Regions from separate parts of the Homo sapiens genome. Here region 1 is linked to region 2. The links come from fine-mapping of genetic effects on gene expression. A gene starts in region 2. The other region holds a variant in brackets. All regions are shown on one strand. Distances are from middle to middle. Region 1 overlaps RALGPS1 (Ral GEF with PH domain and SH3 binding motif 1). Region 2 holds the start of RALGPS1 (Ral GEF with PH domain and SH3 binding motif 1).

Region 1 (13,245 bases), 27 kb before region 2:
TCTAAAATTCTCTTTTTTGGTTGTGTCTCTGCCCGGCTTTGGTATCAGGATGACGCTGGCCTCATAAAATGAGTTAGGGAGGATTCCCTCTTTTTCTATTGATTGGAATAGTTTCAGAAGGAATGGTACCAGTTCCTCCTTGTACCTCTGGTAGAATTCGGCTGTGAATCCATCTGGTCCTGGACTCTTTTTGGTTGGTAAGCTATTGATTATTGCCACAATTTCAGCTCCTGTTATTGGTCTATTCAGAGATTCAACTTCTTCCTGGTTTAGACTTGGGAGAGTGTATGTGTCGAGGAATTTATCCATTTCTTCCAGATTTTCTAGTTTATTTGCATAGAGGTGTTTGTTGTATTCTCTGATGGTAGCTTGTATTTCTGTGGGATCAATGGTGATATCCCCTTTATCATTTTTTATTGTGTCTATTTTATTCTTCTCTCTTTTTTTCTTTATTAGTCTTGCTAGCAGTCTATCAATTTTGTTGATCCTTTCAAAAAACCAGCTCCTGGATTCATTAATTTTTTGAAGGGTTTTTTTTTTGTCTCTATTTCCTTCAGTTCTGCTCTGATTTTAGTTATTTCTTGCCTTCTGCTAGCTTTTGAATGTGTTTGCTCTTGCTTTTCTAGTTCTTTTAATTGTGATGTTAGGGTGTCAATTTTGGATCTTTCCTGCTTTCTCTTGTGGGCATTTAGTGCTACAAATTTCCCTCTACACACTGCTTTGAATGTGTCCCAGAGATTCTGGTATGTTGTGTCTTTGTTCTCGTTGGTTTCAAAGAACATCTTTATTTCTGCCTTCATTTCGTTATGTACCCAGTAGTCATTCAGGAGCAGGTTGTTCAGTTTCCATGTAGTTGAGCAGTTTTGAGTGAGTTTCTACAAACCACTGCTCAATGAAATAAAAGAGGATACAAACAAATGGAAGAACATTCCATGCTCATGGGTAGGAAGAATCAATATCGTGAAAATGGCCATACTGCCCAAGGTGATTTATAGATTCAATGCCATCCCCATCAAGCTACCAATGACTTTCTTCACAGAATTGGAAAAAACTACTTTAAAGTTCATATGGAACCAAAAAAGAGCCCACATCGCCAAGTGAATCCTAAGCCAAAAGAACAAAGCTGGAGGCATCACACTACCTGACTTCAAACTATACTACAAGGCTACAGTAACCAAAACAGCATGGTACTGGTACCAAAACAGAGATATAGATCAATGGAACAGAACAGAGCCCTCAAAAATAACGCCGTGTATCTACAACTATCTGATCTTTGACAAACCTGAGAAAAACAAGCAATGGGGAAAGGATTCCCTATTTAATAAATGGTGCTGGGAAAACTGGCTAGCCATATGTAGAAAGCTGAAACTGGATCCCTTCCTTACACCTTATACAAAAATTAATTCAAGATGGATTAAAGGCTTAAACATTAGACATAAAACCATAAAAACCCTAGAAGAAAACCTAGGCATTACCATTCAGGACACAGGCATGGGCAAGGACTTCATGTCTAAAACACCAAAAGCAATGGCAACAAAAGCCAAAATTGACAAATGGGATCTAATTAAACTAAAGAGCTTCTGCACAGCAAAAGAAACTACCATCAGAGTGAACAGGCAACCTACAAAATGGGAGAAAATTTTCACAACCTACTCATCTGACAAAGGGCTAATATCCAGAATCTACAATGAACTCAGACAAATTTACACGAAAAAAACAAACAACCCCATCAAAAAGTGGGCAAAGGATATGAACAGACACTTCTCAAAAGAAGACATTTATGCAGCCAAAAGACAAATGAAAAAATGCTCATCATCACTGGTCATCAGAGAAATGCAAATCAAAACCACAATGAGATACCATCTCACACCAGTTAGAATGGCAATCATTAAAAAGTCAGGAAACAACAGGTGCTGGAGAGGATGTGGAGAAACAGGAACACTTTGACGCTGTTGGTGGGACTATAAACTAGTTCAACCATTGTGGAAGTCAGTGTGGCGATTCCTCAGGGATCTGGAACTAGAAATACCATTTGACCCAGCCATCCCATTACTGGGTATATACCCAAAGGACTATAAATCATGCTGCTATAAAGACACATGCACACCTATGTTTATTGCGGCACTATTCACAATAGCAAAGACTTGGAACCAACCCAAATGTCCAACAATGATAGACTGGATTAAGAAAATGTGGCACATATACACCATGGAATACTATGCAGTCATAAAAAATGATGAGTTCATGTCCTTTGTAGGGACATGGATGAAACTGGAAATCATCCTCAGTAAACTATCGCAAGGACAAAAAACCAAACACCGCATGTTCTCACTCACAGATGGGAATTGAACAATGAGAACACATGGACACAGGAAGGGAACATCACACTCTGGGGACTGTTGTGGGGTGGGGGTAGGGGGGAGGGATAGCATTAGGAGATATACCTAATGCTAAATGACGAGTTAATGGGTGCAGCACACCAGCATGGCACATGCATACATATGTAACTAACCTGCACATTGTGCACATGTACCCTAAAACTTAAAGTATAATAAAAAAAAAAAAGAACTTGGGAGATTGAGCAAGCACGGAAAGAAGGGCCAGGAAAAGCGTCTTCTTGGGGAAGGGAAGCGCCTATGTTTACGGAGCTGAATTGGGGGCCGGCACAAACAGGCAGCCATCCTGTGACAGGCATTCTCAAGCGCCCCCATGTCCCAGGCTCTGTATGCTGAAGCTGAGGAGGCAGAAGGGGAGAAAACCCATCCTTGGCCTCAGGAAATTTATAGTCCAGCCCAGGGATGCCTAACCTTTTCAAGGATGAGGACTTTCTGAAATTTTATTTTATTTTATTTTTTCTTTTTGAGATGGAGTTTCACTCTGTTGCACAGGCTGGAGTGCAGTGGTGCAATCTCAGCTCACTGCAACCTCTGCCTCCCAGGTTCAAGCGAGCGATTCTCCTGCCTCCGCCTCCCAAGTAGCTGGGACTACAGGCATGCACCACCACGCCCAGCTAATTTTTTGTATTTTTAGTAGAGACAGAGTTTCACCATATTGGCCAGGCTGGTCTTAAACTCCAGGCCTCAAGTGATCTGCCCACCTCGGCCTCCCAAAGTGTTGGGATTACAGGCATGAGCCACTGCGCCCAGCCTCAATTTTTAAAAGAAAAGTAATTCATATGCATAGTAGAATTATGTAAACTGGATAAAAAGGTATAAAATATAAAAGGCAAGTCTGCTCTCCCCAAAGCCCCTACCTAGTCCCTGTCCCCAGGGTTAACACAGTTCACAGTGTTGGGTAGCATCTTAATGCACACACCCACACAGATACTCTGATATGTGTGGATATACAGGGATATAAATATAAAGGGAAACACACTCTAGAGACCCGCCTTACAACACTAAAAAAAATGTAGTTCTCTTTTTGTCATCTGTTAAGGAAAAAAACCTTCTGTAACAAAAAGCTATGATAAATTCACCAACACTCTGGTTTAACAATCCCTGCAGTAGCTACATATATTTGAGTAATAGTAGGGGCCATGCACAGCACCCACCCTTCATTCTATAGACAAGGCTCAGAGCACACCTGGATTTGGGGAGGCTTTAAAGTCACCTGTAGCTCAACCCCACCCCCACCAGGGTAACAAGCTGCAGTGCAGGCTTGATAGGAGCACAAAACAAGGCAGCTACAGAGCAAGTGAAAGAAGCCAGGCTCCTCCCTGTGGCTTAGGGGACAGAGAACCAGGATCTGAACACTCACTTTTCACTTACTTTGTGCCCTTGGCCAGTTGCTTGACCTGGCCAACATCCACTTTCCTCCTCTGGGGAGAATCATGCTACAGGTTGCGCATCCCTTATTCGAAATGCTTGGGACCAGAAGTGTTTCAGATTTCTGATTTTTTGGATTTTGGAATATGTGCATTATCTTACCAGCTGAGCATCCCAAATCCCCAAATCCAAAATCCAAAATGCTCCAATGAGCATTTCCTTTGAGCATCATGTCAGCACTCAAAGAGTCTCAGATTTTGGAGCATTTTTATTTCAGATTTTCAGAGTTGGGATGCTCATCCTGTACCTACCCCTGTACCTACTTCACAGGAGGCTGAAAGGATTAATAAGATGATGTATGTAGAAGTGGCTGGTGCAGAGCCTGGCAGGTAGCGTGGATTCAAGAAATGACAGCAATTGTTTCTGGTAACACCCTCCACCACCACTTCACCTTCCAGCACAGACAATGCTCTCTTAGCCTAAGACCACAAGAATCAATTTGAAGGGGAGGCAATGAAACAAATGTGAATGAGGAATATGCATTTCTCTGAAGACCAGGAAAGGGTTCTCTGGTTGGCAGGAGAGTTTTCTTTTAGACCCTCTATGAAAGGCTGGCTAGAGCGTCCCCATCTCCCACATAAGCATCTACAATCTACTCTGGAAATCGAAGGTTCTCCCCTTCCAAAACAAGGTGCCTGCAGAAGACAGGTGAAGGAGGAAAAAATCCTCCCCTGCAGCCACCAGCTGACAAGACCTGATTTCTTCCATAGGGAAAGGAGGCAAATTTTAGGAAACTGGGAGGCCAGGGGATATTTGTGGGGGTGGGCTTAAAGGGAACATCAAGAAATGAGGGTAAAAGGGAGAGTGAAGAAATGAGGGTGGTCTACCTCAGACATACCAGATACCCACAAAAGCCCTGGGTGCATCAGAGGTGCCCTGCTATTCTGGAAGCCTGAATAGTGAAGCTTCCCCTTGTGTGTGTTCGGAATCACAGTGCACAGTAGCCAGGCCAGGAACTCAACCCCCCATTTCCTTTTCCTAACTCTGTAAAGCCCTCAATCTTTTTTTTTTTTTTTTTTTTTTTGAGACAGATTCTTGCTCCCTCACCCAGGCTGGAGTGCAGTGGCGCAACCTCAGCTCACTGCAACCTCCGTCTCCCAGGTTCAAGCAATTCTCCTGCCTCAGCCTCCCAAGTAGCTGGGATTACAGGTGTGTGCCACCACGCCCAGGTAATTTTTGTATTTTTAGTAGAGACGGGGTTTCGCCACATTGGCCAGGATGGTCTCGAACTCCTGACCTCAGGTGATCTGCCCATCTCGGCCTCCCGAGTGAGGCATGAGCCTCCATGCCTGGCCAAACCCTCAATCTTAATCAGGATCCAGGGAACATTTGCTTTGAGTATCAGCAGGCAACATTGTCTGGAACTAGAAGGGGTACTGTCTCTGTCCTGGGCCATCACGGACAGAGAAAATTCCTCTCTGTGGAATATGGCCAGGTCTCACCACCTCCAATCCCTCCATCTTGATCCAAGCCACCAAAACCTCCCATCTACCGTGAAAGCCTCTTACGCAGTCTCCCTGCTGCGCCCCGTCCCTCTATGGTTTATTCTTAATAGAGTGATTGCAAAAGCTAAGTCATAACTTGCATAACAATACACTAAAAAAGGTACATTTTCCTATATCTAAAGCATACCCAGCTGGAGAAAAACAGAATGCATCTTCCCCTTCTCCAAACGGAAGCTGAAGAAATACCCTGACTGATAAGAGAAGACGATGTCTGCCCCAGGGAACGACCTTATCACACAGAAGCAGAAAGCAGGAACTGCAGAAAGAATTCAGTCCATGGTATAAGGTACTGCAGAACCACTTGGGATGAGACCTGAGAACAGGCCTGAGGATATAATGGCAAGAACACCCTGTGTGCAGTGTCAGGGAAGGCCCGATGCACAATGGGACCTGATGGTCCTGACTCTCCCAGAGCCAAGTACAGCAGAAAGGGGAAGGCAAGAGATGAGGGCAGCAGATTGAAGCTGGGGTTTTGAGGTGCCTGAGGAAGACTTCTAAGCACATCCTCAGACTGAAAGAGTTAGCAGAGGGCAAAATATTAAAAATGCAAGAGAAGGCCAAGCGAAGTGGCTCATGCCTTTAATCCCAGCACTTTGGGAGGCTGAGGCAGGCAAATCACGAAGTCAGGAGTTCGAGATCTGCCTGGCTAACATGGCGAAACCCCGTCTCTACTAAAAATACAAAAAATTAGCTGGGTGTAGTGGTGAGTGCCTGTAATCCCAGCTACTCGGGAGGCTGAGGCAGGAGAATGGGTTGAACCAGGGAGGCGGAGGTTGCAGTGAGCCGAGATTGTGCCACCGCACTCCAGCCTGGGTGACAGAGTGAGACTCCATCTCAAAAAAAAAGCAAGAGAAAGAGAGGACACCTGACAAAGACAGTCTTAGAGAAGTGTCAGACCCTGTTAGCTGCTTCCCTTGCAACTGGAGGAAGGAGTACAGTGGCCCACTCATACCTCACCTGGAGGAGGGCAGCAGTGGGGAGCCTCCTGGGCTGCCTCCTGTGGACAGGAAGACTCATGTCCACGGGGAGTGCCAGCCAGGCCAGGTGCCTACAACAACACCTGCAGGGCTAGATGAGACTCTTTCACTCTATAGGCTTGACAAATAGAATCACCAAAACTAGACTCTAAATTTCATCCACCAAGGCTCAGCTGATACCTTCTGGACAGACTAAGGAACTATCACAGACCAGAGGAAACTGATGAGACTCAATGGCTGAATGCACTGAGGGACCCTAGACTGGATCCTGAAACAGAAAAGGGACACTGTGGGGAAAACTGGTAACATCTGAAAAAGGTCTGTAGTTCAGTAAACAGTGTGGTACCTATTAATTTCATAATAGTACTGTGGTTATGTAAGCTCTGTACTGTTTTGCAGCCTTTCTATAAATCTAAAATAATCTCAAAATAAAAAGTTAAAAAAAAATTAAGGATTCTATATTCTCATATCCTATCCCACCCTCCCTCCCCACCCAATTTCCCTCCCCATAGTCTCCCTTAGGAATAGGTCTAAAAACAGGGGTCTCAACATTTCCTGTGAAAAACCATTATGGGAGGACTGCAGCCCTGGGTGTTGACAATCAGGCATTTTACACCTGTTACGTGTGGGCCAAACAGAAACCATCTAAGGTGGACTGTGGAGGCGTGTAGGGAGCAGGGGGTCTTGACCTCCTTTTCCCTCCCTCTTAGATCCTGCCAAAGGCAGAGGCATTACTGGTCTGGCTGGTACCAAGCCAGGTCAGGATAGGACCACATCCATTAGTGTCACTAAGTGCCAAAAGATCATCACCTATTCAAGGCCTTCTCTTCTCTCCACTGCTGCTGTGAGATGTGTGGTGAACTAGGGCCTCTGCTTGAGCTCAGCCCCTCTCTGACTCCTGCGTGCATGCCTAAGGGTGCCCACCAGGCCTGCATGTCCCATACACTGCTGCTGGCTGGCGGATGGTAAGGGACCCAGACACAGATCAAGTTCAGGCAAGTGGGAGGCCCCCATGGGCTGCGAGCCCATTACCTGCTCCAACCCAGCTTTGACCAGAGGGTCCTGTGTTAGGGTGCCAGGCTTATAATGAGGGTCTCTGAGTTCTCCTTGGCTGCTGTTCCTTCTGCGATGAGGTACCTCAGAAACCTTGAGGCAAGGGTTAGGTTGGCAGAACAGGATACCCACATTACATTATTGGGCCTTGTTGACAAACAGCATTGAGTCCTGGCCCTACGACCTAATTTTCATAATGAACAGCCTGGTCCTTCCCTTAAAACAAGAAGGAAGCTGTCTACAGAGACAGGCAGGGTGGGCAAGGTCTGGTTGGAAAAGGGGCAGTGAAAGCAGTCCAGGCAGCGGTAGGAGAAAGACTTCAGGAGTAAAGGGCACACCCCAGGTGACAGGAAAACGGAAAACCTGCACCCAGTTTCTAAGGCTCTTCAGGGTCAGCCCACATTCCACGGAGAGCACTGCAGGGTTGATGGTGTGGGTTGGAGGTGCCAGAAAGGCACAGGGACAGATGACACTTTCACATCAACCTCGACTAATAGACTATGAAGATAATGAGAGGAGTCCACCCATTTGCCTTCCACTCTCCAGGTCCTGCTGAAAGGACCAAATAAATAAAACATAAGGCCAGGCACGGTGGTTCACGCCTGTAATCCCAGCACTTTGGGAAGCCAAGGAGGGCAGATCACTTGAGGTCAGGAGTTCACAACCAGCCTGGCCAACATGACAAAACCCTGTCTCTACTAAAAATATAAAAATTAGCCGGGCGTGGTGGTGCATGCCTGTGATCCCAGCTACTCAGGAGGCTGAGGCAGAAGAATCGCTTGAATCCAGGAGGTGGAGGTTGCAGTGAGCTGAGATTGCGCCACTGCACTCTAGCCTGGGCAACAGAGTGAGTAAGACTCCATCTCAAAAAAGAAAAAAAGGAAAAAATCTGTTGCAGCATTAAAATACAGAAAAGGATGACATCAATGAACTATAAATTATTAAGAATTTCTAGATTTCAAGCAAATGGAAGTGGACTAGAGAGAAATCTATGAATGATATCTATCCAGCTATAAAATCAACAATTTCCTCTGTACAAACAATAGCCAGCTAGAAAGCGTAATGGCCCAAGAGCCCACTAACAAAAGAGAAAAATATCCAGAAATAAACTTTAAAAGAAATGTACAAAAATCATTTAAAGAAAATTATAAAACCTTACTAAAAGACAAAAAAAAAGACTTAAATCAAAGGAGAGACATTTCACTCCCTGGAATAAGGAGACAGTATTGTAAAGCCATCAATTCCACCCAATCAATCTATAAATAAAATGTAAGTTCACTCCAAATCCTAAGGGGATTCATTTTGGAACTCAACAAATTGATTTAAAATTTCATCTGGAAGAATAATTAAAAACAGCTAAGACATTTTCAAAAAAGAACTACAGTAAGAAGAGTCTTATCCTGCCAGGAAGCCACAGTCAATGATAAATGGCAAAGAAACAGAGAAACAGATTTGCAGGACAAGACACAGTCCAGAACACAGGATCCAGTATATGTGAGGAGTAGCATATAACCAAGAGGCATTTCAAACAGTGGAGAAGATAGATTCTTCAATAAATGTTGATGAAACTATTTACTATTCACTTGGGAAAAAGAGGAATTTGTTTAAAATCTTGCTCAATATCATATATAAGGATAAACTTTTGATGGATTCAAGACTTAACAACAAAAAAAGGAAAAATACTAAAGAAAACACAGATCAAATTTTTAAAATAATTTGGAGGTAAAAAAAAAAAGTCCTAAGAGTGATACAAAAGCCAGAAAACTACTGGTAGATTTAGCTACATTAAAATTAAAACTTCTATAAAGGAAAAGACATCATGAAAAAAATGAAAGGCAGTCAATAAACTGGGAAAAGGGTGTTTGTGATGTCACATGACAGATGATGAATTAACATCCTTAATACAGGATGGCTCAACACTCGGAAGATGGGTGGACCTGAACAGGGGGTTTGTTCTCTCTAAACCTCAGCTTTCTCATCAGGTGAAAAGGAGAAACTAAGAGCAGCATCTTTCTTAGAGGGTTGGTGTGAGGATTAATATGAGCTATTTTTTGTAAAGCACTAAGCCCAGAGTTCAAACAAAGCAAGGAAATCATCAAATAGATAACCAGAGAGTATATGTTCCAGGAAAGCTACTGACTGTAACACTGGCTACAAAAAAGCCAGGAAAACACTTGAAAACCACAGTAAAGACAGTTAGAACACATCCATTCAATGGGATACTAAGTGGTAGATAAAAAGGTGAGGGAGATCAATACTTCCTGACAGAGAGCAATGTCCATAAACTCAGGGCACACTCACTTTCATGCTTTCATTCAATAACTATTTCCTGAAAAGCTAGTATATATCAAGCACTGTCCTAGATGCTAGGGATAGAGCAGTGAAGAAAAAACCCAAAACCCCCAGTATATTCTAGTGGGGGAAACAGACACTAAGTAAATCATTCAGCAAAAGACAAGGCTTGCCAGCTCATGGTAAGTGATAAAGAAAAAAGTAAAGCAGAGAAAAGTAGGCAGGGTGGGAGACAGGTCATAATTTTCTCTTTTTTTTACACTTATTTTTAATTTTTGCAGGTACACAGCAGGTGCATATATTTATGGGGTATATGGGATATTTTGATACAGGTATACAATGTGTAATAATCACATCAGGGTAAATGGA[A/G]TATCTGTCACCTCAAGCACTTATCCTTTGTGTTACAAACAATCCAGTTATACTCCTTTTGTTATTTTTAAATGTACAATTAAATTATTATTGACTACAATCACCCTGTTGTGCTATCAAATACTAGATCTTATCCAATCTTCTTCCTATCTTTGAATCCATTAATCATCCCTCCTTCCCCAACAACCCCCCCCCACAACTAGACGAAGTCATAATTTTAAAGGGGGGGGGCGTATATGAGAAGTCCTCACTGAGAAAATGACACTTGAACATGTTTTAAAATCTTTATAACACATGTGAACACACATATAGAAGTATAGAAGGATATTCACTAAACTGTTAATATCACTGCCTCTTAATGGCATTATTGTATGGCACTTTTACTTTCTATTTCTGTACACTTCAATATTTTCTGGTTTCTTTTGAAATAGGTATGGAAAACATTTATGAGCAGCACAGCACCTAGAGGAAAAAACTGAAAATGAACTTACACAGACAAGGATGGCTCAGAGCTGGGTATTTAAAGACAGCGGTTCCCAGGTTCGGGTCTGGTGCCTGGTGCTGCAGCACCACCTGGTGGCCAATCACCTAACTACTCAATTTCATACAACCATGCCGAGAAAGCAAGAGACAAGATGCACTTTTGTACACAACAGCATAAGAATATACCTGTTCGACGGATCACGAGGTCAGGAGATCGAGACCGTCCTGGCTAACACGACAAAACCCCACCTCTACTACAAATACAAAAAAATTAGCTGGGCATGGTGGCGGGCGGCTTGTAGTCCCGGCTACTCAGGAGGCTGAGGCAGGAGAATGGCGTGAACCCGGGAGGCAGAGCTTGCAGTGAGCCAAGATCGCGCCACTGCACTCCAGCCTAGGCAACAGAGCGAGACTCCATCTCAAAAAAAAAAAAAAAATTATATATATACATACACCTGCCCAATGGACAGGGACTGAAGAAAAGTACACAAACATAAACACTATTCAGTATGTTGGGGTGGCAGGTGGCAGGATCGTAGCAGAATTTACGTGGCTTGGACTTTCAATCATAGGTTTATAATGATGCTTCATTTCTTTATTTCTAACTGTGCAATGGAACAGTCCAACACGACATCTGAATGTACTCACTCACTCAACAGAAGTGGAGTGAGAGGCGGGCTGGGCAGCACAGATTCATAACCCAGGCTATTTGCACATGGTAAAGAAGTGTGACAGGACCTCAGGGCACAGGTTGCTTGGAAAAGGAGGGGTCAGCCTCAATGGGAGTGCCTGGGAGATAAGATCCCAGAACACTGGCTTGGATGAGTAGCCACACCCCTGCACTCAAATTATTAATCATTAATAGCTTGTACACAGACGACTGAACTAGTACCTCCTCGCTGAAGCCCAGAGGCGAATGAAACGTATCCCTTAGGTGAGCAGGAAGTGACTTTGATCGCAGAGGACTCTACCTAGAATACTGTTTCCTTCCCCTCCACCCAACAGGCCTCCAGCCTGGGTCCATGGCCTTCCTCTGCAGGCTCTCTGCTTAGCCCTCCGCAACGCTTGTCACTCTGACATGCCAATGCGGCTGCTCCCTGCTCAACCATAAGAGCTCTGTAAAGCGAGGGTCATGTCTATCCCATTCACCCTCTATGTCTGTCTCACTCACTCTCAGAGAGGGACAGGACTTGGAAGTCCAACTGTCCTGGGTTTGAATCCTGCTCTGCCATCTACCACCTATGTGGCAAGTGCCTCTTGGCTTCTATTTCCCCTTCTGTAAAGTGGGCATACAGGATTGTACCCATCTCATGTGGCTGTGGTAAGGATTAACTAATAGCAACAGCTGGTGCTCAGGAGTACTGGGGGTGCCAAGCACTCGTCTAAGTGCTCTATATGTGTTAAGTTCCTTAACTGAAGCCATCTCTGTGCAATAAGTGTTGATCACAGTGCCTGGCATGGGATACATGTTCAAATACTGTTATTTCATCCCCAGTTTCCAGCACAGTGCCCAGCATAGTCTATTGTGTTCTCAATAAAAATGAATGAATACTTCCCCTGCCTACTATGGAAAGGAGAAAGGTCAGAGTGAGCCTGTGATGCTCAAGCCACCCCATGAGCACCCAAGCTGCCTGGTTCTGCTGTCCCAAAAGGCTGAAGGATAGTACAAAGGGACTGGAAGGAGAGAAGGTGCCTTGACAGACACATGCGACCCTGCAGGACTGGGGAGCAATGAGGATCACAGAGCCCATCAGGGGAACATGTTCTGTGCTGAAGTGCAGACCCTCTGCCCCCCTCTCCCACTTCCAGCCCTTAGAAGTGGCTCCGCTGTAGGTACAGCTCAGCCAAGGAAGGAGAGATTTGTGGATACCACATCAGGTCCCAGAAGGTCATTCAGGCACATCCCTGGCCACACCCAGCCTGCTTCTTTCACCACCAGCAAAAACGGGGGCTAGTTTGTCTCCCTAAAACCCTCCTCCCTCCTCTACTCCTGGCTCTTTCCTACTCTTCCATTCTCATTTAAATGTCACTTCCTGTGGGAAATCTCAGTGATGCCCTAGGTAGGTCCTTCTCCTACAGCTTTTAGAGCATCTAGACTTCTCCACAACACTCAAAACATTTGTCGTGAAGTGTGTGTTCATCTTCCTCACTGGACTGTCACAGCTGTGGCCACCCACAGCTTCCATGACTCGCAAAGCCTTTTCTGAGCAAGCCTACTTTGAAAACATATCCTTATTGCTATAGCCAAACCCAGTAGGGGTGTACAAATAAGAAGCCATCAACCCACCCTTCCTTGTACGCCCTCCCCCTTCCACCCACCTCACTTTGAGCCACCAAGAGCACATTCCTCCATGCCTTTCTGCCTACCAACATGTAATCATGCTGGGCTCATGCCAGAGACCAGGGTCATGGCCTCCATGCCTGCTGGGCCCAGACAGATCACGTCAATGGTGAAGCTGGAGGTTTAACAGAATAGGGACAGACAGGGCCTATGGCTACTACACCACCTAAAACTTCACATTTTCAAAAGGTGTAGCGTATTCAACTGGCCAAAGCAAGCATCAGAGAGGGAGATTAGACAGAGCTCCTCAGGTAGGGTAGCAGATTTTTTAAACCTAACAATATATCCTGGCCTTCTCTCGTGCCAATTTCTAGAGAGCTGGCTCCTTTCCAACACTGCTGATGGGTGCTCCCCTTCTTTTCACCTTTTTGCCACTATAAACAGTGATGCAGAAAATGGCA
Region 2 (11,670 bases):
GAGCCCACTATTTACTCCATTTGTTCATCCAATAAACACTTAAGGAGCATCTACTACAGGCCGGATGCTAGGCTAGGCACTGAGGACCTGCTGGTGGGCAAAACAGTCACGGCCCATGACCTGATGGGACTGTACTGCACCAGGAGAGACAGACATATCCAGCAATTACCCTAGAAAGCATATTCTTACACCTCACCGGCCATGCTAATGATGTGGTCTTTTTTCTGACAGAAATTAGAAGCCACTGGAGGCTTTTAAGCAAAGGGAATGGCATGCTCAGACCATTCTGGCTGCCTTGTACCAGCCCTGGGGTAGGCCCTGAATACGCAAGAACAAATGTGGACTCTCACTCTGTAAAGTCTAGAGAAAGGTCATGAGGGAGTCACTGGTGGGCACAATTGTACTATATGCTAAGGCAGGGCACACAGTGAGAGAGTTGTGGGAGCCCAGTAGGAGAGCAATCTATAAATGCTAGTGGACTGAAAGTGTTAGAGATATGGTGCCTAGAAGGAAAAAATAAACAGATGCACAGAGGACTAATCCTCTCTGTAATTCCACATAACGAACTTTATGCCAGAGAAAGACACAGCAAATTGTCTTGAATCTATTAACTTGTTTTCCATAAATATTTAATTATTCAGAAATATGCCAAAAGCACAAACTTCCCTTGCCCTAGTTATCAGGCTTATACAACAGTGGGTGATAATTACTGTATCCAATAAACATGGACTTAAATACATTCCCTATTCTTCCTTTCATCTCAGATGATTTTAAAAGAAACCTATGATGTCAAGGCCAAAGATTCAAATTTTCTTCTGCTTACTCAAAAATTGACTTAACCTTAAAAAATAAATATTTAAATCCTGAAGAGGGAAAGTATCATGTTGTATTATCAGTTTATATTAAAGACCAATCATTTACACGGAATAATGGAATGATTAAACAGAAAGAACTTGAGAAGCAGCCCCCAGTTCCTAAATGGGCCTGAGACAAACGCGCCCAGAATGGCTCCGTCCTCTCCCTCACCAGTACCCTATGTCTTTGTGGGAGCTGAGGCTTGCCTCTGCAATCCCAGCGCAGGAAGAGTTCTGCCTGCCACCCTGGACATGCTTCCCAGCCCCCCATCACCAAGTACATGTGTGTTTTAACACATTGCTTGTGCAGTAACTCATATAACTTCCACAGACAATACATTAATACCCTGAGAAAAGCATCCTAAAAATCTTACTACCCTGGGTGAAAAGAGGACACTATTCTAGCTCCCACTTCCTGGGTGCTCACAATGTGCAAGCCCTCTGCTAAGCCCTATTTTGTAGCGTCTCCCTGAAACCCTGTACGAACCACACAAAGGCGCGTACTATCTCACCTCTTGTATCGATGAGGAAACAGAGGTATAGTCATTTGCTCAAAGCCACATGGCTTGTGAGTGATGGTGTCAGGACACAAACCCACATCTGTTTGTGTCCCAACTCCAGAGTCCGTGTTTTAAGCACTGCCCTATCTGCCTCTCTGATGCTCAGGAGATAAATCTCCTGCAAAGAAGAACACGACAGACTTGAAAGCTCTACAGAAAAACCAAGGAATTATTTGCTGTTCTGGGTCTTCAGGTCTCTGCGCTCCTCAGCAAGCACAGGTGAGACAAGTACAACTCATGCCTCTCCTTGGGGAGAAGTCATGGAATGATCAGTGCAGGTACTCAGACAAAGAAAAGGTGTTCACAATGATGACAGGTGAAATGTATCTTTCAGAAGAGCTCACGCAGAAAGTGGGGAGGAAACACTTACAGACAAGCCTATAGCCCTGGAGCCATAATATCAGCCACAGGGCTAGTGAGGAAGGTCCTGAGGACTCCTTGAGCGCTTGGTGACTTCAGAGTTGATCTCTCAGACGACTTGACCTTCACATTCAATACCTAACTTTCATCATGACCACGACACTATCACTAGGATCCTGAGAAACAGCTCAAGAGGTGCTTCTTGGTTCTCCCACAGCATCACGTATAATTACAATAGTGAGCACTCTGTAAGCATTAGCTTCCCAGCAGGCACTGTGCTAAACACTGCACTGCATTATTTCACTGAAATCTTCAACAGCCCTAAGTTAGGTAAAACTGCTATCCCCACTTTACCAAATCAGTAAACCAAGACTCAGAGCTGGGAAGACACCTGCCCATGGTCACACAGGTTGTCTGTGACAGAGGCAGGATTTGAACCCGGGTCTGCCTGGCCCCGAGCCTGAAACTGCTTGGCCACTTCATGAGAGGTTCTCTGTTATGGCCAATCGCCTTCAGTCACCTTCTGTTTGTGGGTGACTTCTCCACTGACTGTGAGATCCCAAAGGGCAGGGACAAAGCTTCATCTGCATGTGTCCAGCATCCATTACAAGGTTGAGCCCAAAGCAAGAGCCCAGCAAGGCAGGTTAATGAATGCCCACCTGAAGAAAGTCAAGTGTATTCTCTGCCACGAAAGGAGGCCCAGAAACACTCCTCACAGAAGCCAATCCAACCAACTCTTCCCCCGAGTTAAAATCTATGAGCCACCTACTCAGCTCCTTTGGCCTGCACCTCCACAACTCCAGCCCAAGGCAAGGGAGAGCAGCCATACTTCTGTGGAAAGGAGAGGTGAGTTTCAGCAAGCATGAGCAGCTCATTCCAGACTTGTCCATTTTTCTGCTTCCTCATCTTGACTTTCAGCATCTGCAACAAATATTTCCTTCTTCCCCATCCCTAAGATTTTTTAGGACAAGTATCATCAGCCATACCCAAAGCCTACACCTAGCATATAGCACAGCACATGCCTGTCTCAGAGTCAGCACTCAAATATTTGGGGAGTGAAGAAGTAGAGTCCAGAGAATGGGTTTCACCAGAGACCTGGTGACGTATAAATAAGAATTTGCCACCACTTAGTAGTATGATTTGTCTAAGCACAGGTCCATCACACTATTCAACAAGAGCCTACCCTGTGTCAAGCTCTGGAGACCCAGCAGCAAAGAAAGCAGGAGACTTTCCCTGTGCAGAGTAGAGACACAGGCAAAAAGTCACACATGCAATAACATGATGTGTGCTCTGATCCAGGTACACACAGAATGAAAGTCAAGGGAGTACAAATAGGAGGGTGCCTGGAAAAATTAAGTAGGTTTCACAAAGGAGGGAAAATTTGAGCTGAGGAGGCATTCCAAACCACCCCAGGGAGAAGTCACTGTTCCCTGCCTCTGTGATCTCACACAATGCTCGCCTCCCACGACCTGGCCCACTATACTGTTTGGTAATCAATGGCTTGTGCGCCGATCTCCACACACAGCATGTGAGCACCTCAAAGGCAAGGACTTTAGGTATTCTCCATGGCTCACCCTTAATTGTCCAGTAAATATCTGCTCACAAAGAATAGAATCTATTTCAGATTATTAATAACATAGCAGCTCATCCTTCTTAAGCACCTACTATGACCTGCTATTGCTGTATGTACTTTGCATAGCATGATCTCCCTTCCTCCGCACAAAAACCCCCAAAGACAGATCCTATTATCATTATCTATTTTACAGATATGGAAACTAAGATGCAAAAAGATTAGATAAATTGTTCCAAGTCACACAGCCAGTAAGTGACAGAGCTGGACTTTGAATCAAGGCCTGAATGGAAAATCAGTTCTCAATTACCAGTGAACAAATCTCTTTTCCTTTCTCTTTCTGTACTCCGCCTTGCATCCAGATACATGGATTGCCCTTTAATCTACTGTTCACTGGGACCAAGGCCACTTTTTTTCCTAGGACAAAGGATGTCTCTTGTTAGTCTTCTAAACAATGACTGCTAACCAATACTGAGTAAACATCATTGGGGTGTGGGGGGTGGAGGTACAAAATTATGCTTATATCAGTCAAAAACATTTATTAAGAAGGAACTGTATATACTAACTGACACATTTTCCAATGCTAGAACAATGTCCAAAGTAAATCAAGTGGATACATGAAGCACCAATGAGTATGTATAAAATGCTATTCTTTGTGTAAGAGAAAGAATATATAATAAACAAGAAACTGGTAACAGTGGCTGCCTCTAGGGAAAAGGACTAGGAACTGTCAACTTGAGGCAAGAAAGACACTTACAACTTATTCCCTCACTAGCCTTAAAAAAAATCCATGTGTGGGCCCGGTGCGGTGGCTCACGCCTATAATCCCAGCACTTTGGGAGGCCGAGGCAGGCGGATCACCTGAGGTCTGCAGTTCAAGACCAGCCTGACCAACATGGAGAAACCCCCTCTACTAAAAATACAAAATTAGCCAGGCGTGGTGGGGCATGCCTGTAATCCCAGCTACTCTGGAGGCTGAGGCAGGAGAATGGCTTGAACCCGGGAGGCGGAGGTTGCTGTGAGCCAAGATCGCGCCATTGCACTCCAGCCTGGGCAACAAGAGTGAAACTCTGTCTCAAAAAAAAAAAAAAAATCCATGTGTGATTTTTTTTTTACTTCCTCAAAATATAAAATAAAAACTATACTTGCTAGACGTGGTGGCTCATGCCTGTAATCTCAGCACTTTGGGAGGCCGATGCGGGGATCACTTGAGCCCAGGAGTTCGAGACCAGCCTGGGCAACATAGTGAGACTCCCATCTCTACAAAAAATTTAAAAATTAGCCAGGTGTTGTGGCGCAGTACTTGGGAGGCTACGGTGGGAGGATCATTTGAGCCTGGGAGGTCAAGGCTGCAGTGAGCCGTGACTGTGCCACTGCACTCCAATCTGGCTAACAGAGGGAGACCCTGTCTCTTAAAAAAAGTTTTAAACGATATTCAAAGAAACCATTTATTACTGGGCCTTTCCCAAATGCTTACATACGTACGATTGCAACCATGAAGAATTATGTATGTTTACGAACAAAAATTGAATGAATTTAATGTGTGATGAAATGAAACCATGCAACAACTTTTGTCTTTTATGTTGAAGTTCACTAATTTTACTAATGTTACAATATTTTTGTGCAATAAATAAAATGTATGTTAAGGGTACAGAAACCATATGCATAAAAGTAGCAGGGACAACTTGCCACACCTTCTTTCCAGTCAAAGTCCTTCATCTGTTCTTTCAACAAGCATTCGGTGAGCACCTACTATGGCCAGGCAAGGTGCTAGACAGATATTTTTAAAAGAAGAACTAAACAAGAGGTCATTAGTTTCCTCCCTCCTGCCTTTGAAGAAAAGATGACGGCATGCTAACCAGAAGGCTAGAGCTCGAAGGACTCTTGGTGATCACATAGTCTAACACCCTCCTCACTCAGCTAAGAAACCCAAGGTCTGGAGACAGGAAGGGATTTGTTCAAGGTTACATAAAAAATAGAGGCCTCAGAATTCCCTGTCCTGCTCTCCTTGCATGTTACATGCTGTTCTGAGTAGCTTGTGTTGAAAGATGGGCAGGCAGTGAGAGACAGAACAGGACCCTAACCAGGTGGATCAGGTGCCTTCTCCCCTCCCGTCTCATTTATTCTTCATAACAACCTCACAAGGTGGGCATGGTTATCCTTGCTTTACAAATAAAGAAACCAAAGCTCTGTGAAGCTAAGGAAGTAGTGCTGGTTCACTCAGCAGGAGGTGGCAGCCTGCAGTTTCAAACAGACCTGACTGACTTCCAAGTCTGAGCTCTTACCCTCCATACTGAAAAGGAAAATCCATTTCAAGAGGTGGGCCATATCACAGAGCCTCACATGCAGTATTTTTCATTAATGAAGTATTTCTCTCCACCCTGAATGTTGCTAATCCCCTCATTATTCAACACATGTTCTAGGTCTTCTTTGCCACCAAGTTTGAGCTTTCCTTCTAACCCAAAGAGCATGATGGTCACTCAGACAGCAGCAGTCTCTGAGAGCCATTAACACCGCTTCTGCCAAGACAGAGTGGGAGAACTCTCACATGCTGCTTCTAGATCCTCTGGGACCTGCCACACAAGCACAGGCACCAGTAAGGGCCTAATCCCCTCAATGCTACTGGGTCACCACTGCACCAACTAGTGGTAATGAGGGAGGCCAGCACCATGGTTCCTGGCCCCTAAAGTCCCACAGCTTCTACAGTGAAAAAAAAAAAATTCAGGTTAGTAGAGAAGGCTCCACCTACCTTCACTTCTGTCCATGCAACGAAGGTAGGAGGCATTACAGTTTGGACTGGTCAACTACCAGTGAGCAGAGGCACTGGGCTTTGAAAGGTCACATATATGGGTATACAACACTCTTCTGAAATTCAGAAAAAGCCCTGTCATCCTGCTTCCTTCTCCCCGCCCCTGTGGGTACACAGTGGAGTCAGGCATTGCCTTCTTTTGGGGGTCTTCTTTTGGGGATTTTTGTGTGTTTTGAGATGGAAAAGTCTCACTCCATCGCCCAGGGTGGAGTGCAGTGGCACGATCTCGGCTCACTGCAACCTCCGCCTCCCACGTTCAAGCAATTCTCGGCCTCAGCCTCCTGAGTAGCTGAGATTACAGGTGCCCGCCACCATGCCCGGCTGACTTTTGTATTTTTTAGTAGAGAGGGGGTTTCACCATGTTGGCCAGGCTGGTCTCGGACTCCTGACCTCAAATGATCCACCCGCCTTGGCCTCCCAAAGTGCTGGGATTACAAGCGTGAGCCACCGCGCCCGACCCTCTTGGAATGTGGTAAAATCGGGGTCTGTACTTGGATGGGGGCAGAGGGACTTCCATAGCCTCAGGCCTGAGCTTTATGTTCCAGCTCAGAGTCCTCACCGGGGTTGGGGTCTAAAGGTCAGCAAACAAATGTTCTGCTGCTTCCACTTGCCACTGCTCCCTGCGTTGCAGCAGCTCCCTCAGAGGCCTCGCAGAGAGAAGCAGTCACGATCCAAGACACGGCTGAGTCTTTTGGGAACTCCCAACAAAACCTCATCCCAAACTGCGAAAAGACAGTGGTCTAGTCTCACCTCTTAACTAGAAACAAACCCTCTCTTCTTTAGACTCTCCAGTCCCTGAATCCAACCTGCCCATCGGCACAAGAAAAAGGAAACTCATAACTTTATCCAGCGATTTGCTCAGTAGGCACTGTTTCATCCTATCCTCACCAGGCCCCTGGGAGGCACACAGGCAGGTACTAACATGCTCATTTTGCAACGGAGGAAACAGGTGAAAAACTCTCCCAGGTAGCATAGTCAAAAGCTTCTGAATTCTCATCCCTGCTCTCCCCACTTAACAGGCTGCCATTTCAGTCTTTTTGAGACGCACTGCTGAGATCTACAGCAGCTTCTGGTACCAGTGGCCAGCAAGCCAGGACCCCTCCCAAGCCTCATACTACTCTTCAAGCACACACATTTTTCAACAACCGATCATCCAATGACAACCAACCCCCCGCCCCCCGCATCCTGGCAAGCCCCTTCAATAGCAACAGGAAAGCCCCTGAGGTGCGAAAAACAGCGCGCCCCACTTAGGGCGCGGCGTAGCATAGGGGAGGCAACCGGCCAGTAACCAGGGCAGCTGAGCTCCAAGCCCGAGTCAGCAGAGGCACAGGCAGGCCCGGACGGCCCTTCTAGCGGCAGCCCCGGATGCCCCCAGAATCCTCAGGGAGCCCAAAGCCCCCGCTCCCACCCAAGCACCCCTGGGCAGCGGAGAGGGCGGCCTTTCCTTCTCGGGCGACCACTCACCCTCGCCTGCTCCTCACCTGGGGCCCTGCTTCCGTACCGCAGCCACCCGGGCCCCGCCCCCCACCGCTGCAGGTCCCCGGGCCCCGCCCCCCGCACCTGTGCTTTCCTTGGGTCCAGCGCGGGCCGCACCCCACAGCCCCGCCCACGGCAGCCCCGCCGGCCCCGCCCCCCGCACCTGCAGCCGCGGCGCCCCGCCCAACTGCCCCCCCGGCCCCGCCCCCCGCGCCCGCGCCTCTTCCCCGCCGTCCTTCACGCTCCCGGGGACCAGCGCGCCCCTGGCCCCGGACCCCAGAACCCCCGGACCCCGGCCAGGCCCCGGCGCCGGGCACCCGCAGGCACGGCCCCGGCCCCGCCTCCCGCACCGAGGCCCCTCCCCGGCTTCGGCGGCCCTCGGGGTCCCGCCCCCCACACCTGCAGCTCCCTCAGGCCCGGCCTCAGGGCCCGCCCCGCCCCGCCCCGCCCCGTCGGCCGCGCCTCTCACCGCCGCTCTCCCCGCCGCCGCAGTCCCGGCCGGTCACCTTGACGCGGGCCGCAGTGGCTGCCGCCGCTTCCTCATGGCCCTGGGAGCGGCCCAGCGGCAGCGGCGCCTTCGCTTGGAGGCCGGGGCCACGCCGAGCCGGGCCGGGGCCGGGCCAGGCGCAGCTGGAGCGCGGGCAGACGCGGGAGCGGAGCCGGTGCCCAGCCGCAGTAGGAACCGTCCGCTCCAGGGCCTGAGCGGCGGGCCTCTCATCCAATCGGCGCGCGGCACCAGAACAGCCCCCCAACCAGCTCGTTGTAGGGGCGGAGACACGCAAATCGGCCGGCTGGTCGTACCAGTGCGCAGCCGCTGCATCCGCGGTCCTCCCGGGCCTCGGCCTCCGAGCTCATCTGCAGACGCCCTCCCCGCCCGCAGGGATGCTGCGCTGCCAGCACACCCGGCCCGCCGCCCGCCACGCCCATCCCCTGCCTAGAAATAGCCGCGCATCTTATTCCCCACACGGCCGTCCAGGCCTCACCCGATATCCCCCGTAAATCCCTACCTGGGATTTATCGTTTTCAACAAAAATGGTTTTGTGAGCGAGACATCGCCTTAGTGCCCATTCTTCACAGCTGGGAGGTAGGCACAGAGCCCAGAACGTCAGAGCCAGAAGAAACCTCGGAGTTCCTGGCGGGGCGGGGGGGGGGGCGGTCTCATCCATTTTACAGCTGGGCAGAGTTAGGCCCAACGAGGTGAAGGGACTTGCCCAAGACCACACAGGAGCAAAGCTGGGGAATGAGCCCGGATCCTGTCTCTCTGCTCCCACATCTTTACTCTGTGCCAGGCACGGTGAGGTGGGCACAGAGGTTAAGTCATTTAGCTAGAGTCGCAGGGATAATAAATTGCAAAGACAATTGAAGCCAGGTCTGTGAATCCCTGGAAATCTGGAACCACAGCAAAACTCCGTTCTGCCTCCCACAGACAGGAGGTACTATGACCTGCCCTACTCCGAAAGATTCTTGGACAAATAGAACATCATTCTGACAATCTTCAAAGTAATTTTGCAGTAATATGAATGAATATGGAATGATTGGTTATTATGCTTCCCAAAGCTTATGAAAGGAAAAAAGAAACAAACAAAAAAGAATATAAATAGAGTCAGTAGAAGTTAAACCACCTGTGTCTTAAAAGACCTCTGGGAGAAGTTTCTGCTATTTTGTATTAAGAAAACGGTAATCATCGAAGAAGGTGCTTAATTATTTTGCATAAAGAGAACAAGAGCCTGGCGAGTTGGCTCATGCCTGTAATCCCAGCACTTTGGGAAGCCAAAGCGGGAGGATTGCTTGAGTTCAGAAGTGTGAGACCAGCCTGGGCAACATGGCCAGACCCTGTCTCTAATAACAATACAAAAATTAGCGAGGCGTGGTGGCGCAGACTGTAGTCCCAGCTACTCAGGAGAGTGAGATGGGAGTATCACTTGAGCCCGGGAGGTCAAGGCTGCAGTGAGCCTCAAGTGATGGCGCCACTGCACTCCAGCCTGGATGACAGAGCGATACCCTGTCTCAAAAAAGAGAGAGAGACCATCCTGGCTAACATGGTGAAAACCTGTCTCTACTAAAAATACAAAAAATTAGCCGGGCGTGGTGCGGACGCCTGTAGTCCCAGCTACTCGGGAGGCTGAGGCAGGAGAACGGCGTGAACTTGGGAGGCGGTGCTTGCAGTGAGCTGAGATCGCACCACTGCACTCCAGCCTGGGCGACAGAGCGAGACTTCGTCCCAAAAAAAAAAAAGAAGAGAGAGAGAGAACAAGAGACAGTGTAGTGCAATGGTTCTGCCCTGGCTCTGCCACCAGCAAGCTGTGTACATGTGAGCAAGTTACTTAGCATATCTATGTGCCTCCGTTTCTTTCTTTTTTTTTTTTTTTTTTTTTGAGACGGAGTCTTGCTCTGTTGCCCAGGCTGGAGTGCAGTGGCACGATCTTGGCTCACTGCAACCTCCGTCTCCCAGGTTCAAGCAATTCTCCTGCCTCAGCCTCCCAAGTAGCTGGGATTACAGACGCCAGACACACCATGCTCAGCTAATTTTTGTATTTTAGTAGAGATGGGTTTTCACCATGTTAGCCAGGTTGGTCGCGAACTCCTGACCTCAGGTGATCTGCCTACCTTGGCCTCCCAAAGTGCTGGGATTACAGGCTTGAGCCACCGCGCCCAACCTGCCTCGGTTTCTTTATTGAAAGATGAGAATGATAAAAGTAGCAACCTCTTTAGACAGGCTGTTGGCAGGAATTAATGAGATGATACATGGAAGAGTGCCTGGCACCTAACAGGACCTCAATAAACATTGGCTACTATTATATTTACCTGTGTGACTTTGGGCAAGCACAGAAGTGTGTGCAATGTACGCTTGCTAAATGGCATCTATACTTTTATTATGCTTATGCATACTTTCTAAGTTTTTTCAATGAACACAGATTCTTTTGTGATATATTAGAAGTTATTATAAACCCAATTTTAAAATGAGGAAAGGTCATTTAATATTGATTCTTGATGCTTCCAGAAGGATGTATTCATTCTTTCTACAAATATCTAATGGTTCTCTGCTATGCGCCAAGTGCTACTGTAAATGCTGAGAAAACAGCAGTGAATAAAAGAGACAAAAATTCTTGTCCTCGTGGAGTTGACATTCTAGTGGGGTAAGGCAGCTATTAAAATCAATATTTACAGTAGTAGGCTAGATAGAGAAAAGTGCTATGGGAGTAAAATGAAGCAAGGAAGAAGGGAGTTCAACGTTAAAGAAGACAGAAAAGTTTAGATGGTGATAAGCGAGAAATAATAGGTTTCTTAAAGCAATAAAGCCAAGTGCAGTCTGAGAAAGAGAGAGAGAGAGAAGGATCTGAATAGACATTTCTCCAAAGAAGATACACAGTGGTCAATAAGCACATGAAAAAGTGCTCAATATCATTAGCCATTAGGAAAATGCAAATCAAAACCACAATGAGATACCACTTCACACCCATTAGGATGGCTACAACAAATAAGATAGACAATAACAAGTGTTGATGAGAAGGTGAAGAGAATAGAACCCTTGGCTGGGCGTGGTGGCTCACGCCTGTCTCCCAAGGTGGGTGGATCACCTGCGGTCAGGAGTTCAAGACCAGCCTGGCCAACATGGTGAAACCCCATCTCTACTAAAAATACAAAAAAATTAGCTGGGTGTGGTGGCAAGTGGCTATAATCCCAGCTGAGGCAAGAAAATCACTCGAACCTGGGAAGTGGAGGTTGCAGTGAGCTGAGATGGCGCCATTGCACTCCAGTCTGGAGGACAAGAGTGAAACTCCCTCTCAAAAAAAAAAAAAAAAAGAGAGAGAGAGAATGGAACCCTTATACACTGCTGGTGGAAATATAAAATGGTACAACCACTTTAGAAAACATAGAGTTAGCATATGACTCAATCACTCCACTCCTACTTACCACCCAAGAAGAAATGGACACAACATGTCTGCACAAAAACTTGTAGACAGGTGTTCACGGCAGCATCATTCACAATATCAAAAAATGTGAATAACCCAAATGTCTATCAAGTGATGAATAGATAAA

The links.
Region 1: its variant is fine-mapped to the expression of RALGPS1 in whole blood (INTERVAL, PIP above 0.99).

Annotation. Positions count from the first base shown.
Region 1 is chr9:126,938,137-126,951,381 of GRCh38, reverse strand. The region is part of intron 1 of RALGPS1 (Ral GEF with PH domain and SH3 binding motif 1); the gene reads right to left. Among named protein-coding and RNA genes, the nearest start is that of RALGPS1, 30 kb to the right of the region's middle. The variant A/G (reference allele first, on the strand shown) is at 10,021.
Region 2 is chr9:126,911,441-126,923,110 of GRCh38, reverse strand. It overlaps RALGPS1 (Ral GEF with PH domain and SH3 binding motif 1), which reads right to left and starts at 8,329. Exons shown (of 19, transcript NM_014636.3): 1 at 8,136-8,329. RefSeq lists enhancers at 6,025-6,074, 7,368-7,437 and a silencer at 7,928-8,357.